Linked DNA regions of Homo sapiens. The protein of the gene in region 1 purifies or fractionates together with the protein of each later gene. This does not show direct contact. Each region holds a gene or a part of one and is shown in the gene's direction. Other genes may lie near its edges.

Region 1 (3,323 bases):
TTGGTCCAGCTGGCCGCATTGCCCGCTCTCCGTCATGGGTGGGAAGGCCCACGTCTTCCTCCCCATCAGCCCTGGCCAGTGCAGGAGCTTGGAAGTCACTCGGCTTCAGTGGCCTCAGTAGCCTCCTGGGACCAACGGTGTCCTGAGGAGCTCCCGGGCCTGCCTGCCATCCCCATCCTCAGATGCCGGCTACAGCTCCTTGGGCCCAGCCCCCAGGGCACCGTGGGCTGTCACAGGGCACTCCAAGTTCTCAAGGAGCTTGTGCCTGCCAGTAGGGGTCCCCCCGAGGGAGGAAGTGGCATCTGTGGGTGCAGCATTCTGGATCGCCCATGGCCAGGCCTCTCTGGGACTGTGGGGGGCACCCACAGGCAGTTCAGTGCTTCCTGCTCAGGCAGACGCTGTAGGGAGTTTGGTCCAGGAAGGGGGACAGCAGCCAGGAGCGTCTGGATCTGCCAGGTGGGGGCAGGTGCGGGCAGGTAGGAAAGAGAAAAAAGCCTTGGTGCAAGGAGAGGGAGGTTGAGGGCAGAGTAGCTGGCAGCTGGAGGTGGGGGGCAGCTGGACTGGCCGCACAGGTGCTGTCGGTTGGGACAGGGCAGGAGGATGAGCCGAGGCCTTGAAGGCCATCCAAGGGGCTGAGGCTCCATCCCCAGAGAGGTGGGAGCCATAGGGGGGGTCCCAGCAAGGAAGAGGTTGGACCGATGGAGCCAGGATCAGAGGTGGGGCTCAGGAGGAGCTGTGGAGGGGCCCTTCCAGGATGTGAGGGCGGTGAGGGCCCCATGGGAAGGGGGACTCCGGGCTGTGCAATCAGGTCCTGTGGGAGACCAGCGGCGGGGGCCCTCCAGTGGCCAGTGCTCGGGTGGATCTGGACAGGGAGGGCTGCAGAGGCAGCGTAAGGAGAGCCAGGATGGTGGGTGGAGCCCCTCAGCAGTGGAAGAACAAGCTGGGGGTCCTGGACAGTCAGAGGGAGGGAAGGAGCCTGCAAACACCAGTGGCCACAGCCTCCTGGCGGCCCTGCCAGCAGACATGGCCTAGAAACACCGAGGACCAGCAGCGCGGTATGTAGGCAAAGGTGGTCACTTCCTGCTGTGACTCAGCTCGAATTGGGTTTCTGTGCCATCTACGCACACCCTGTGCCCCACTTCCTGCTTCCTGGGAAGAAAGAACTTTCCAGTGGTCCTGGGCCCTGCCCCGTGTCCCCAGATGGTGATGAAGCTCCTGGACCCCTCCTGCCCATGCTGCCCATTGTCGGGCAGCTGCCCTACTTTCCGCCTTGGATGAAGCTCCATTGTCCTCTGGGAGGAGAGACAAATGAGGGGTTTCTGGGGACAGAAGGCTGGGAGGAACGAAGCCACACCCTTTATGGAGCGGTTACTCTGTGTCCAGTGGGACTGTCCTCTGTGGGCCTGGGACAGACACTGTGACTGTGACCCCGGCCACTCCCTTATGGCTCAGAGCAGCTCTGCCGGGGGACGCCTTGTGGCTGTGCGGCTGACGGGTGCATGGCTGGCCTGTCTGGAACAGGCTGTTCAATAGTCACCCTCTCTCCACTGGGTCTAGCTCCTCTGGGCAGCTGAGTGAGAAAACAATACCAGAGCTGACCTCCCAGAGCAACGGGAGGCGTGCTGTGGCCAGGCCCTGGTGCCAGAGCCACACAGCCTGGGGTGTGGAGCAGAGCAGCCCTTAGCAACCAGCTGAGGCCCCTAGAGGGAGAGGAACTCACCAGAGCGAGGAAGAGTGGGAGGTAGGACAGGAAGAGGAAGGGTCTGCATAAAGAGGCGCCATGAGCAGAGGGCGAAGGGCCTGAGGAGGAAAGGCGCTCTCTGTACAGAGAGCAGGGAAAGGCATCGCAGGGGAGGGAACAGCGTGTGCAGAGCCAGGAAGAAGAGGAAGGCCAGCATGGCTGGGTCAGAGTGCTCGAGAAGAGGAGCAGTGGGGCAGGGGCGGTGCTCAGCACCTTAGTCCTTAGGCCCCACGCCCTCTGCTGTCTGCGTGCCTGTTGGGTCCCTCTGACTCTGCCCATTGTTGAACTCTCTGAAGTCTCCTGGAGGGCAGGGCCCTGTCTCACCTGCAGGTCTCGCCACAGCCCGCTCTGGGGCCTCCCTCAGTGATGGTGTGGCCAGGGCTGATGAATAGCCGAGGGACCCTGCCTTGCCTCATCCACAGGTGATTACTTCGGGATCCTCAAGGAGGCGAGAGTGACCGTGTTCCCCTTCAACATCCTGGACAACCCCATGTACTGGGGAAGCACAGCCAACTACCTGGGCTGGGCCATCATGTGAGTACCAGGCTTGCCACCCCTCTGCCCTGCTGGCCACCTCCCGGAGAGGAGCTGGTGCAGCTCAGGACGCGGGGGCCAGGGCCCCTGGAGAGAGAGAAAGGAAGAACGTGTCATTTGTGGGGGCCTAGGCGCCCTGGTTCTCCCTTTCTCAGAAGCGTCTTATCTATGGTAACAGAAACAACATCCCAGAACAGGGTGGTCAGCTTCTCCAAAGAGGGCTGGAGTGTGGAGGCTCAAAGGCTGCAGGCAGGTCACAGCTGCTCAGCCCTGGTCCTGCCACACAAAACAGCTGCAGACGCAGGAAAATGGATGCGCGTCTTTGGCGCCAGCACAGCTCCACTTACAGACACTGAAGCCTAAATTTCAGATTCTTTTCACGTGTCATGAAACATTCTTTTTGATCCTTTTGCTTTTAACCGTTTAAAAATGTAACAGGCGTTCTTGGCCCCTAGGCCGTAGTTTGCGGACCCTTGTGCGGGGACATCAGGGCTGGGACCACCCGACCCATCTTCCCCGCAGGAGGGGTTGGCCAGAGCCGCCAGGGCCCAGCTCACCCGCAGCTGACAGAACTCCCTGTGCCCCAATAGCCTCTGCCCATGTGGCAGATACCCCTTCCCACAGAGGGGGCCCCGTGCCATGAGGGAAGCCTAGAACTGCTGTCGGCCTCAGCCAGGTACGGGTACTGACAAGGTATGGAGATGTGCTCCCCCGGCGGGTCAGAGGACCTGCGGTCAAGGATGGCACAGCGGGCGCTGCCCTCGGCTTCATACCCAGCCCCCACCCCAGCAGTTCTAGTTTAGCCATTTTCTTCCATAGAAGGTTTTTTGGCAGACAGTGTTCCACTGCTTTTGTTTAACACTTGAAAACCACTGGCCTAGAATTTACAGGTTCTCCACAAGACCTGAGGATCCCAAAGGAGTGAATCGTAAACAGTGAATGTCAAGCGCAAGATGTTGCCTCCTGGCTCCCACCTTCAGCAGTTGGGACCGTAGCAGCGGGGGTTGGAGACAGCAGAAGCTAGAAGGGGGGCTGTGGGTCTGGCTGG
Region 2 (3,984 bases), on another chromosome or scaffold:
AATATCAAGTCGGATTCTCCTGCTCTGTCCCCAGGAGAGGCAGGTAAGCTGCTTTCATTGCTGGTCAGCACTAGTAAGTCAGGAAGGAATCTCTTTGGGTGAAGGGGAATTTCAGAGACTTCCTTTAAATACTCTACTTAGAACCCTCAAGGTATTTGCCATTCTTGGGGAACCCTGAGCCAGGGCAAACTGAAACCAAAGCCCTTCTGATTCCTACCGCTCCTCCAGTTCCTGCCCTTCCCCATCACTAACTCCCAACAAATGTACACAGATTGTATTTGTGTAGATGTGGCCTCAGGAAATCAAAAGGTCCTAGAATGCAGGTAATTTAAAGTCTTACTAAATAATCTTCTGTCCAGTTTTTCCACATGGGTTCTATAATCTATTCAAGGAGATCGGGGGGAAAAGCATTCTTTTATTTATTTTTGTACCTCATTAGTAAGTCCTAACCATACTCTTCCTTAGGTCCCTTTTCCAACTCAGTCTCGTTCTCACATTTTTAGAAAGGACAACGGGATCTTTAAATTCTCTCGGTTTGTGTTGGGAAAGGACCCAAATTAGTGTGCTTCCTCATTGACAGTCAGAGTAGCCTTCAAGCAGTATATCCAGGGAAGGCATTTACACCTCCTCCCCGCCCTCTTTTTCAGTTTGGCCTACTCTAGCCTGCATTTCGCTCTCCCTGTAACTATGAGAGAAAATAACACACACTATTCACTCTCCTTTGTCTGCAAAGTCTGGCATTTCAGTGGTTTTCTTTAAGGGGGGTCCTCATTTGTGACCAGCTTTGTCATTAACGGAAATCAATCTGAATGCCCCATTGTGCATCTTTTTTCTTTCCTTGCAGTCTGAGATTGCCTTTGCCAAGTTTTTTCTCACCGAACCTGAAAGCCCTTCTCTCATTTTCCCGTTCCCTGCCTCCAGCCCCATTGAATCCCTGCCGAGCTTTCTCAGGCATAAGGGCTGTAGTGTGAGGATTGGGAGGAACTCGACCTACTCCGCTAACCCAGTGGCCTGAGCCAATCACAAAGAGGATTGGAGCCTCACTCGAGCGCTCCTTCCCTTCTCCTCTCTCTGTGACAGCCTCTTGGAAAGAGGGACACTGGAGGGGTGTGTTTGCAATTTAAATCACTGGATTTTTGCCCACCCTCTTTCCAAATAAGAAGGCAGGAGCTGCTTGCTGAGGTGTAAAGGGTCTTCTGAGCTGCAGTGGCAATTAGACCAGAAGATCCCCGCTCCTGTCTCTAAAGAGGGGAAAGGGCAAGGATGGTGGAGGCTTTCTGTGCTACCTGGAAGCTGACCAACAGTCAGAACTTTGATGAGTACATGAAGGCTCTAGGTAGGTAACAATAAGACCGGCTGTTCTCTTCTCAACGTGCAGCTTTAGATATTTGCAGATTCCATTTTTCACTCATCAGGTCAGCAAGAGGCAAAGACAGATCACATTGCCCTGATCAGATGCTAGGCTATGCATTTTCCACTGAATGGATTTTTAATGTGGCACTTGCTTGCCTTCTTACCCAGGGCCAATAAAAACAGAACATTTGCTATTCCGTGGAGAATATGAAGCTTCTCTGACTTTTTTGGTTTTCTTCTGCATCCACTTATTATCACAGTAGTGTTTTACATGATTAATGGGCTAATCATGTTCTAATGAAACTTACACTTTAGAACGTGGATTCCAGAATCAGAAAGCAGATTCTTGCTTTGTGAGTTATTTTGGAAGTCGCTGCAGACTGTACTGTTCCCTTTGCTATTTTAGGCGTGGGCTTTGCCACTAGGCAGGTGGGAAATGTGACCAAACCAACGGTAATTATCAGTCAAGAAGGAGACAAAGTGGTCATCAGGACTCTCAGCACATTCAAGAACACGGAGATTAGTTTCCAGCTGGGAGAAGAGTTTGATGAAACCACTGCAGATGATAGAAACTGTAAGGTGAGAAACTGCTTCTTCTTCAGAGTGGGGATGGGGAGAGGGGAATAAAGATAAAGATTTCCAATGCATGTTTTTTTTAAGATGTTGGAAAGTGTAGAATATTTTCAGTATTTCAATCCAAGGAGAAATACACCAAAGTTAGTTTAATGTGCATATGTTATATTTTGAACAATGGGTACTTGCTATAGCATAAATCTCAGTTGTATTTGTCTCTTACCATATACTGTTCACATTTTATATCAAACTTGTATTTCAGAAAATATTTAATAAGGTTTGTTTGAAAGAGAGATTGCATTTTGTTTAATTCCCCAGGTTGCCTCAGATTGACTAAATAGACAGTTTGCCTCATTCTAAGGCTTTCTTTAGAGGGACGACTAGCTGCAAAGCACTGGTTTAGGATTTTTGTTTTTAATATATTAAATTTTTGTATTTAGATGTATACTTTTTAATCAAATTATGAATTCAAATTTACATAATAGAAAATCTAGAAGTAATAGAAATAACAATAGGATAATTAACTGATCATGATTTATTCAATTATACAACTCTTTCAAAAATCACATCGTCTTCCGTATCAGAAATCTGAATTGTATTTATTGCTATGTTCTGCATTTTGTTGTTGGTCTCAGTCTGTTGTTAGCCTGGATGGAGACAAACTTGTTCACATACAGAAATGGGATGGCAAAGAAACAAATTTTGTAAGAGAAATTAAGGATGGCAAAATGGTTATGGTAAGTAATGACAATTCTCCATTCTTCCTTGTTTTTTTCTCCTCTCCGCACACCTCTCACCTCCTTCCTTCTTCTTCCCTCCTCCTTCCATTCTTCCTCCTTCCTTCCTTCTTTAATAATACATCACTGGCAAGGTTCTTTAACTATATGTAAAACAGGGGAAACAAAAAGATCCCAGTTAATTTTCTTCTTCAGCTCAACTTCTTTGATTGTAGAAAAAGAGAAAAATTCATGTGTAGTTAAAAAAATAAAAGTTGCCATTGATTTGCCTAAAACTGTGTCAAAAGATTTTTTGTAGGATAACTATGGATGTCTCTCAAATAAAATTTAATATAAAGCCCATAATCACTGAAATATATAAAGATAATTGCTATTATAAGAGAATCTCAGACAGATGACTTTATAGCTCCTGTAATAAGAGATCTTTAAACAGTTTATATTTTAATTTATAAAGTTACACAAGTTCTGGGCAGATAATTTAGAATATAACAGAAAAGTATAACAAAAAAATTAAAATCCCCTCTGATTTCTCATCAGTGATAACCCTTTTTTTTTTTTTTTTTTGAGATAAAGTCTTGCTGTGTCACCCAGACTGGAGTGCAGGGGGTGCATTCTTGGCTCACTGCAACCTCTGCTTCATGGGCTCAAGCGATTCTACAACCTCAGCCTCCTAAGTAGCTGGGACCACAGGTGCAAGCCACCAACGCCGGGCTAATTTTTTTGTATTTTTGTAGAGATGGGATTTCGCCATGTTGCCCAGGCTGGCCTACAGCTCTTGAGCTCAAAGTGATGCTCCCGCCTGCTGCCTCGGCCTCCCAGAGTGCTGGGATTACAGGCCTGAGCCAAGGCTCCCAGCCCCCAAAGAGAACCATTTTGATGTTACTTCTTTCCAGTTTTTTTCTCGAATGCATAATATGCCTTTTAAACATATATATTCAATACTAGGTAGACATGAAAAATATTTTTTTCAATCAGCCTCTTCTTACTTACTAGGAATTATCTGTAAAAGAGGATTTATTAGTGTCCTAAGGCTGCCACAACAAAGTACCACAAACTTGGTGGCTTAAAACAACAGAAATGAATTTTCTCAGTTCTGAAAGCTGGACGCCTGAGATCAAGGCGACCCTAGTGTTGCCATCCTTCTGCGGGCCCCCTCCCTTGCTTCTTCCTACTTCCCGGATGGCTCCTGGCAATCATTGAGGTTGTTGGGCTTACAGTTGTTATTACTCTGATCCATTTCTGACTCCATCTTTACAAGACTTTTTCCTCTGTTTTTGTCCTAAATTGATCAAATATAAAATAATTAACAAATAATTTATCT
Region 3 (3,500 bases), on another chromosome or scaffold:
TTCTAAACCATCTCATTTTTTTTAAAGATGAAGAAGTTAGAGTCCAGAGAGGTAAAGTAACTTGACCAGGTTCACACAGATAATTAGCATAAAAGCCAGGACCAGAGCCAGAGAATGCCAAACAGAGCACATTTTGTTTCTCTGAAAGAAAGCACTGTGTACATTCAAAGACTTATTATTTCCACTGGGGGTAATTATACCCAAGAAATGTGACGGAGAGAGGGGAGACTCTCTTGCCCAAGAAGTGGTGACAAAACCAACAGTTGCATAATTGATAAGTAAATGACGGTACATCCATATGATGGACTTCCATGCAGCATTAAGACAACTTTTCAAACAAATTTTTTGGTAATCTGAAAAATGTTAACTATAAGGTTAAGTCATTTTATTTCTTGAAAAAGCAAGATATCAAATTATATGAACAGAATAATCTCAATTCTATTCAAAATATTTAATTATGCATATAAAAAGATTAGAAACATATAAAAATGTTAACAGGGATATTGTCTGACTGGTAGGATTATCAGTGATTTTTAAATATTATCCAAAGTTGCTATAGTGAACACACTTATAATCAGAGAAAATCTTATGGGGGAAGGATGAGATGAATAAAATATCCAAAGCGGTCAATAGTAGATGAATTTTTAAAATCTATCCTTTTGAGATAATATTTAAAAAGTTATGCTAAAATAAAAATACATAATTGATGTTGGAGCATGAGAATGCATTAAATATTTAAATTTCTTCTAATGTTGTTCAGGCCTTAAGATGTCTTCCAACTCTAGTGCCAAGCACTGTGCATACATGCTACGTACTCAATAAATTAGTTCATCCCTCATCCCTAGAGTTTCTTGGCTATATAATCTTCCGATCCCTCATATGCAAGCAAAACACCCATTAAAAATAGTTGGTAGTGTACTTAGGACTATTTAAAAATAGTTTCATTAAAAAACAAATGTGGCAGAGAATGGTGGCTCATGCCTGTAATCCCAGCACTTGGGGAGGCCAAGATGGGAGGATTGCTTGAAGCCAGGAGTTTGAGACCAGCCTGGGTGACATAGACCCCATTCTACAAAAAAATAAAAATAAAAAAATTAGTTGGGTGTGTGATATGTGCCTGTAGTCCCAGCTACCTGGGAGGCTGAAGCAGGAGGATTGCCTGAGCCCAGGAGTTCGAGGCTGCAGCAATCTATGATCACACTGCTGTACTCCAGTCTTGGCGACAGAGCAAGACCTTGTCTTAAAAACACATGTGTGCGCACACACACACACACATACACACACACACACACCACACTCCAAATGTTATATATCAGGGAGATGTTGGCTTTTCATAGTTTTATAATTAATTGGTTTGTGTGTTCACTTTTTAAAACTAGGTCAATAACTTTATCTTCCTGCTTTTTCCTCACAGCCCTGCCAAGCCCAAACATGTGGAACTAAATCTTAAAACCCCTAAGAATCTTGACAGTTTGGGAAATGAGCACAATCCATTTAGCCAGCCAGTTCACAAAGGCAACACTGCCACCAAAATCTCCTTATTTGAAAACAAACGGACAAACAGTAGCCCAAGACACACTGACATTCGAGGCCAAAGGAATACTCCTGCCTCTAGTAAAACGTTTGTTGGGAGGGCAAAGCTGAATTTAGCCAAAAAAGCCAAAGAAATGGAGCAACCTGAAAAGAAAGTAATGCCAAACAGTCCCCAGAATGGTGTGCTGGTTAAGGAAACTGCTATAGAAACCAAAGTTACCGTCTCGGAAGAAGAGATTCTGCCAGCAACCAGAGGAATGAATGGAGACTCTTCTGAGAATCAAGCTCTTGGTCCTCAGCCTAACCAAGATGATAAAGCAGATGTACAAACAGATGCTGGCTGCCTTTCAGAACCAGTGGCTTCTGCTCTGATTCCTGTCAAGGATCATAAGCTCTTAGAGAAGGAGGACTCAGAGGCTGCAGACAGCAAAAGCCTTGTACTTGAAAATGTAACCGATACAGCACAAGACATCCCCACCACTGTGGATACCAAAGATTTACCTCCAACGGCCATGCCAAAGCCACAGCATACATTTTCTGACTCACAGTCCCCTGCTGAGTCATCTCCTGGGCCTTCTCTTTCACTGTCTGCACCCGCTCCTGGGGATGTTCCCAAAGACACATGTGTTCAATCACCCATAAGCAGTTTCCCATGCACTGATCTAAAAGTGTCAGAAAACCATAAAGGATGTGTTTTGCCTGTGTCTCGTCAGAACAATGAGAAAATGCCACTTTTAGAACTTGGAGGAGAAACAACCCCTCCTTTGTCCACAGAGCGTAGTCCAGAAGCTGTGGGAAGTGAGTGTCCATCCAGAGTCCTCGTCCAGGTCAGGTCCTTCGTGCTCCCCGTGGAGAGCACCCAGGATGTGAGCTCCCAGGTCATCCCAGAGAGCTCTGAAGTTAGAGAAGTGCAGTTGCCAACTTGTCACAGTAATGAACCTGAAGTGGTTTCCGTTGCAAGTTGTGCTCCCCCACAAGAGGAAGTACTGGGCAATGAACACTCTCATTGCACAGCAGAGCTCGCGGCAAAATCTGGCCCACAAGTCATACCGCCAGCATCAGAGAAAACTCTGCCTATTCAGGCTCAAAGTCAGGGCAGCAGAACACCCCTGATGGCTGAATCCAGTCCCACCAACTCTCCCAGCAGCGGAAATCACTTAGCCACTCCTCAAAGGCCAGATCAGACTGTTACAAATGGCCAGGATAGCCCTGCCAGCCTTTTGAACATTTCTGCTGGTAGTGATGATAGTGTATTTGATTCTTCTTCTGATATGGAAAAATTCACTGAAATTATAAAACAGATGGATAGCGCAGTTTGTATGCCCATGAAAAGAAAGAAGGCCAGGATGCCAAACTCTCCTGCTCCTCACTTTGCCATGCCTCCTATTCACGAAGACCATTTAGAAAAGGTGTTTGATCCCAAAGTGTTTACCTTTGGTTTGGGGAAGAAGAAGGAAAGTCAGCCAGAAATGTCACCGGCTTTACATTTGATGCAGAACCTTGACACAAAATCCAAACTGAGACCCAAACGTGCATCTGCTGAACAGAGCGTCCTCTTCAAGTCCCTGCACACCAACACTAATGGGAACAGTGAGCCTCTGGTGATGCCGGAAATCAATGACAAAGAGAACAGGGACGTCACAAATGGTGGCATTAAGAGATCGAGACTAGAAAAAAGTGCACTTTTCTCAAGCTTGTTATCTTCTTTACCACAAGACAAAATCTTTTCTCCTTCTGTGACATCAGTCAACACTATGACCACGGCTTTCAGTACTTCTCAGAACGGTTCCCTATCTCAGTCTTCAGTGTCACAGCCCACGACTGAGGGTGCCCCGCCCTGTGGTTTGAACAAAGAACAGTCAAATCTTCTGCCCGACAACTCCTTAAAGGTCTTCAATTTCAACTCGTCAAGTACATCACACTCCAGTTTGAAAAGTCCAAGCCACATGGAAAAATACCCGCAAAAA
Region 4 (2,824 bases), on another chromosome or scaffold:
CCACCTAGCAACTGAAGGGGAAGATCCTGCTGAAGGGGAAGAAGCTCGGGGGGCTCCTGCCCCCTGGAGGGGAGGGTGGCCCTGAGGCCACTGTGGTGTCAGACGAAGACGAGGCTGCTGAGATGGAGGATGAGGCAGTGAGGAGCCGTGTGCAGCACAAGCCCAAGGTTTGAGGGGGAGCTGTGGGGTGGGGCAGCCCGGGCCTTCCCCATCCCCTCACCCGTGGGAGGTCTGCCTTGTCTCAGTTCTCTGTGGCTGCCACTCAGACCCTCTGCCCCGCTCTCTCTGTCTGTCTCCCTCTGTCTCTCTGCGCCTGGGTTTCTGGCTTTCTCAGTGCCTACCCTACCCCAACCACTGAATCTAACCCGGGCCTCCCCGTGTTCCCCAGGAGGACAAGCTCAGGCTAGCACAGGAGCTCTCTGACATGGTCATTTACTGCAAGAGTGTCCACTTTGGGGGCTTCTCCAGTCCTGGCACCCCTGGACAGGCCTTCTACGAGATGGCGTCCTTCTCTGAGAACCGTGCCCTTCGACTGCTCCAAGAATCAGGTGAGGCCTGGCTCCCCACCACTCCCCTGCTCTGTTACAGAGAGAATTGGCAGGGCAGGGCTTGGGCCTCACCAGGAGGCCTCCACTGCTGACCGAACCACACCTCCCCTCAGGAAACGGCTTTGTCCGCCACAACGTGGGGCACCTGAGCAGAATCTACCCGGCTGGATGGAGAACAGACTCCTCCAACTACAGCCCCGTGGAGATGTGGAATGGGGGCTGCCAGATCGGTATGGGCTGGCTGGGGCTGGAGGAGGCCTGGAGGAGGGTTTCAGTCCCAAGGCCGGGGGCCTGGAGCCTCGAAGGCCATGCAGTGGAGCTCTGAGGACCCAAGCAGGGTCAAATGCAGGGGCTTGTGGAGCTGGTAATATCAGTCTGGAAATATCTGCCCACCAGCATGTCACAGTGTCTGAAACCTCATTAGCACACTAGTCCTTTGAATTCTCACACCAGGAATGGAAGGTGTGGTTAGCATGGTGGGTCACTGAGGGTGGCAGGAGGGCAGCAGGCATTGGAGTGATGCTGGGCCCTGCTAACTCACCATGTGACCCTAGGCCTTAGTGTACCCTGAGCAGGCTGTGCTCTAGGGCCCCAGGGCCAGCCCACAGCCTGTGACTGCTCTGTCCTGCCTGTAGTGGCCCTGAATTTCCAGACACCTGGGCCAGAGATGGACGTGTACCAGGGCCGCTTCCAGGACAACGGGGCCTGTGGGTACGTGCTGAAGCCCGCCTTCCTGCGAGACCCCAACGGCACCTTTAACCCCCGCGCCCTGGCTCAGGGGCCCTGGTGGGCACGGAAGCGGCTCAACATCAGGGTACGCTGGACCTAGGAGGGACAGGTGCCCACGGACCTCCCTTCCCCGCTACCACTCCTGAACTGTCCATTGTCCTCTGCCTTTCCTCAGGTCATTTCGGGGCAGCAGCTGCCAAAAGTCAACAAGAATAAGAATTCAATTGTGGACCCCAAAGTGACAGTGGAGATCCATGGCGTGAGCCGGGACGTGGCCAGCCGCCAGACTGCTGTCATCACCAACAATGGTAGGTGCTGGGCCTGGGCTGGGCTACTAGGGCTGGTGTCCATGCTGCTGATATGGTGCCTGTCCCCCTAGGTTTCAACCCATGGTGGGACACGGAGTTTGCGTTTGAGGTAGTTGTGCCTGACCTTGCCCTCATCCGCTTCTTGGTGGAAGATTATGATGCCTCCTCCAAGAATGACTTCATTGGCCAGAGTACCATCCCCTTGAACAGCCTCAAGCAAGGTGAGTGTCAAGAGAAGGGGATGGCCAAGGTGGTGGGAAGCAGGGCCTGGCGTCTCTTGGGCTGGGGCTGGCTGTCCCTTGACGCATCCACCCCCCCTCCGCCGCCGAATGACCAGAACTCTCTCTGTGTTCCCTCCTGCCTGTCCACCCACCAGGATACCGCCATGTCCACCTCATGTCTAAGAACGGGGACCAGCATCCATCAGCCACCCTCTTTGTGAAGATCTCCCTCCAGGACTAGGCTGGAGGAAGCCAGTGGGGTCCCCCCTGAGTGGGCTGGGCCCTCTGTCCACATGTGGGGACAGGGCTGGTGTGGCTGCTCCCAGCCTCTTGCTCAGAGCTAGGCCCCCAAATTGCCTTCAGCCCTAACATAGTGTCTGCTGCTGCCTCCCTGGGGACCAGGAGCTAGCCCAGTCCCTGGAGCTGTCCTTCATTCCGTTAGGAATAACACTGCAGCCCTCTCCACCCTCCGGCCAGCGAGTGGTCAAGGATTTTTATAAAAATCACGATAAGATTAAGCCTTGTGGTCTCTTTACCTGGATGCCAGAAAAATCCCCTGTGAAGCGTGTGTGTGTGTGTGTGTGTGTGTGTGTGTGTGTGTGTGTGTGTGTGTCCCCATGTCCTAGAGTGCTGGAGCCCTAGCACCTCACTCTCCACCTTCCTTGCACATAGTTGAGTAGGGCAGGGGTATCTGGAGAGACCAACGAGAAATAAACCCCTCTGTGGGGTGGCACTGAGAGCTCACACCCGCCAGCCCTGGAGGCCCCTTCCCCTGAGAGGTGGACCTGCTGAGTGGCCCGGGCTTGAAAGCACGCATACCACAGCTCGTATGGGCTGCCTGCTTTTACTGACACGCAGAGGATGACCAAAAGCCTCTGAGGGGAGTGGAAGCAGGGCCTCCCCAGCATTGTAGGTATGTTGGGGTCCAGGGGATAGGGGCAGTCGAGAGGGCTTGGGTTCAGAAGAAGCCCAGCTGCTTTTTCTCCTGCCGCTGCCTCCACGTGGCCATGCTGTAGAA

What was found. The genes of interacting proteins can lie anywhere in the genome.
Region 2: the proteins of PEMT (region 1) and FABP7 purify together in Homo sapiens (affinity purification with mass spectrometry; one large-scale study listed by BioGRID and IntAct). This does not show direct contact.
Region 3: the proteins of PEMT (region 1) and CRYBG1 purify together in Homo sapiens (affinity purification with mass spectrometry; one large-scale study listed by BioGRID and IntAct). This does not show direct contact.
Region 4: the proteins of PEMT (region 1) and PLCD1 purify together in Homo sapiens (affinity purification with mass spectrometry; one large-scale study listed by BioGRID and IntAct). This does not show direct contact.

What each region holds. Positions count from the first base shown.
Region 1 is NC_000017.11:17,508,386-17,511,708, reverse strand, and holds part of PEMT (phosphatidylethanolamine N-methyltransferase), read left to right. Parts: intron 1-2,163; coding exon 2,164-2,275; intron 2,276-3,323. UniProt on the Homo sapiens protein: Catalyzes the three sequential steps of the methylation pathway for the biosynthesis of phosphatidylcholine, a critical and essential component for membrane structure.
Region 2 is NC_000006.12:122,778,532-122,782,515, forward strand, and holds the start of FABP7 (fatty acid-binding protein, brain), read left to right. Parts: upstream 1-1,184; 5' UTR 1,185-1,263; coding exon 1,264-1,336; intron 1,337-1,759; coding exon 1,760-1,932; coding exon of another isoform or gene 1,933-1,980; exon of another isoform or gene 1,981-2,561; coding exon 2,562-2,663; coding exon of another isoform or gene 2,664-2,816; exon of another isoform or gene 2,817-3,984. UniProt on the Homo sapiens protein: B-FABP could be involved in the transport of a so far unknown hydrophobic ligand with potential morphogenic activity during CNS development.
Region 3 is NC_000006.12:106,517,717-106,521,216, forward strand, and holds part of CRYBG1 (beta/gamma crystallin domain-containing protein 1), read left to right. Parts: intron 1-1,414; coding exon 1,415-3,500. UniProt on the Homo sapiens protein: May function as suppressor of malignant melanoma. It may exert its effects through interactions with the cytoskeleton.
Region 4 is NC_000003.12:38,006,996-38,009,819, reverse strand, and holds the end of PLCD1 (1-phosphatidylinositol 4,5-bisphosphate phosphodiesterase delta-1), read left to right. Parts: intron 1-8; coding exon 9-167; intron 168-388; coding exon 389-548; intron 549-661; coding exon 662-778; intron 779-1,183; coding exon 1,184-1,362; intron 1,363-1,452; coding exon 1,453-1,585; intron 1,586-1,656; coding exon 1,657-1,806; intron 1,807-1,961; coding exon 1,962-2,047; 3' UTR 2,048-2,324; downstream 2,325-2,824. Other genes in the region: VILL (villin-like protein), read right to left, coding at 2,765-2,824. UniProt on the Homo sapiens protein: The production of the second messenger molecules diacylglycerol (DAG) and inositol 1,4,5-trisphosphate (IP3) is mediated by activated phosphatidylinositol-specific phospholipase C enzymes. Essential for trophoblast and placental development.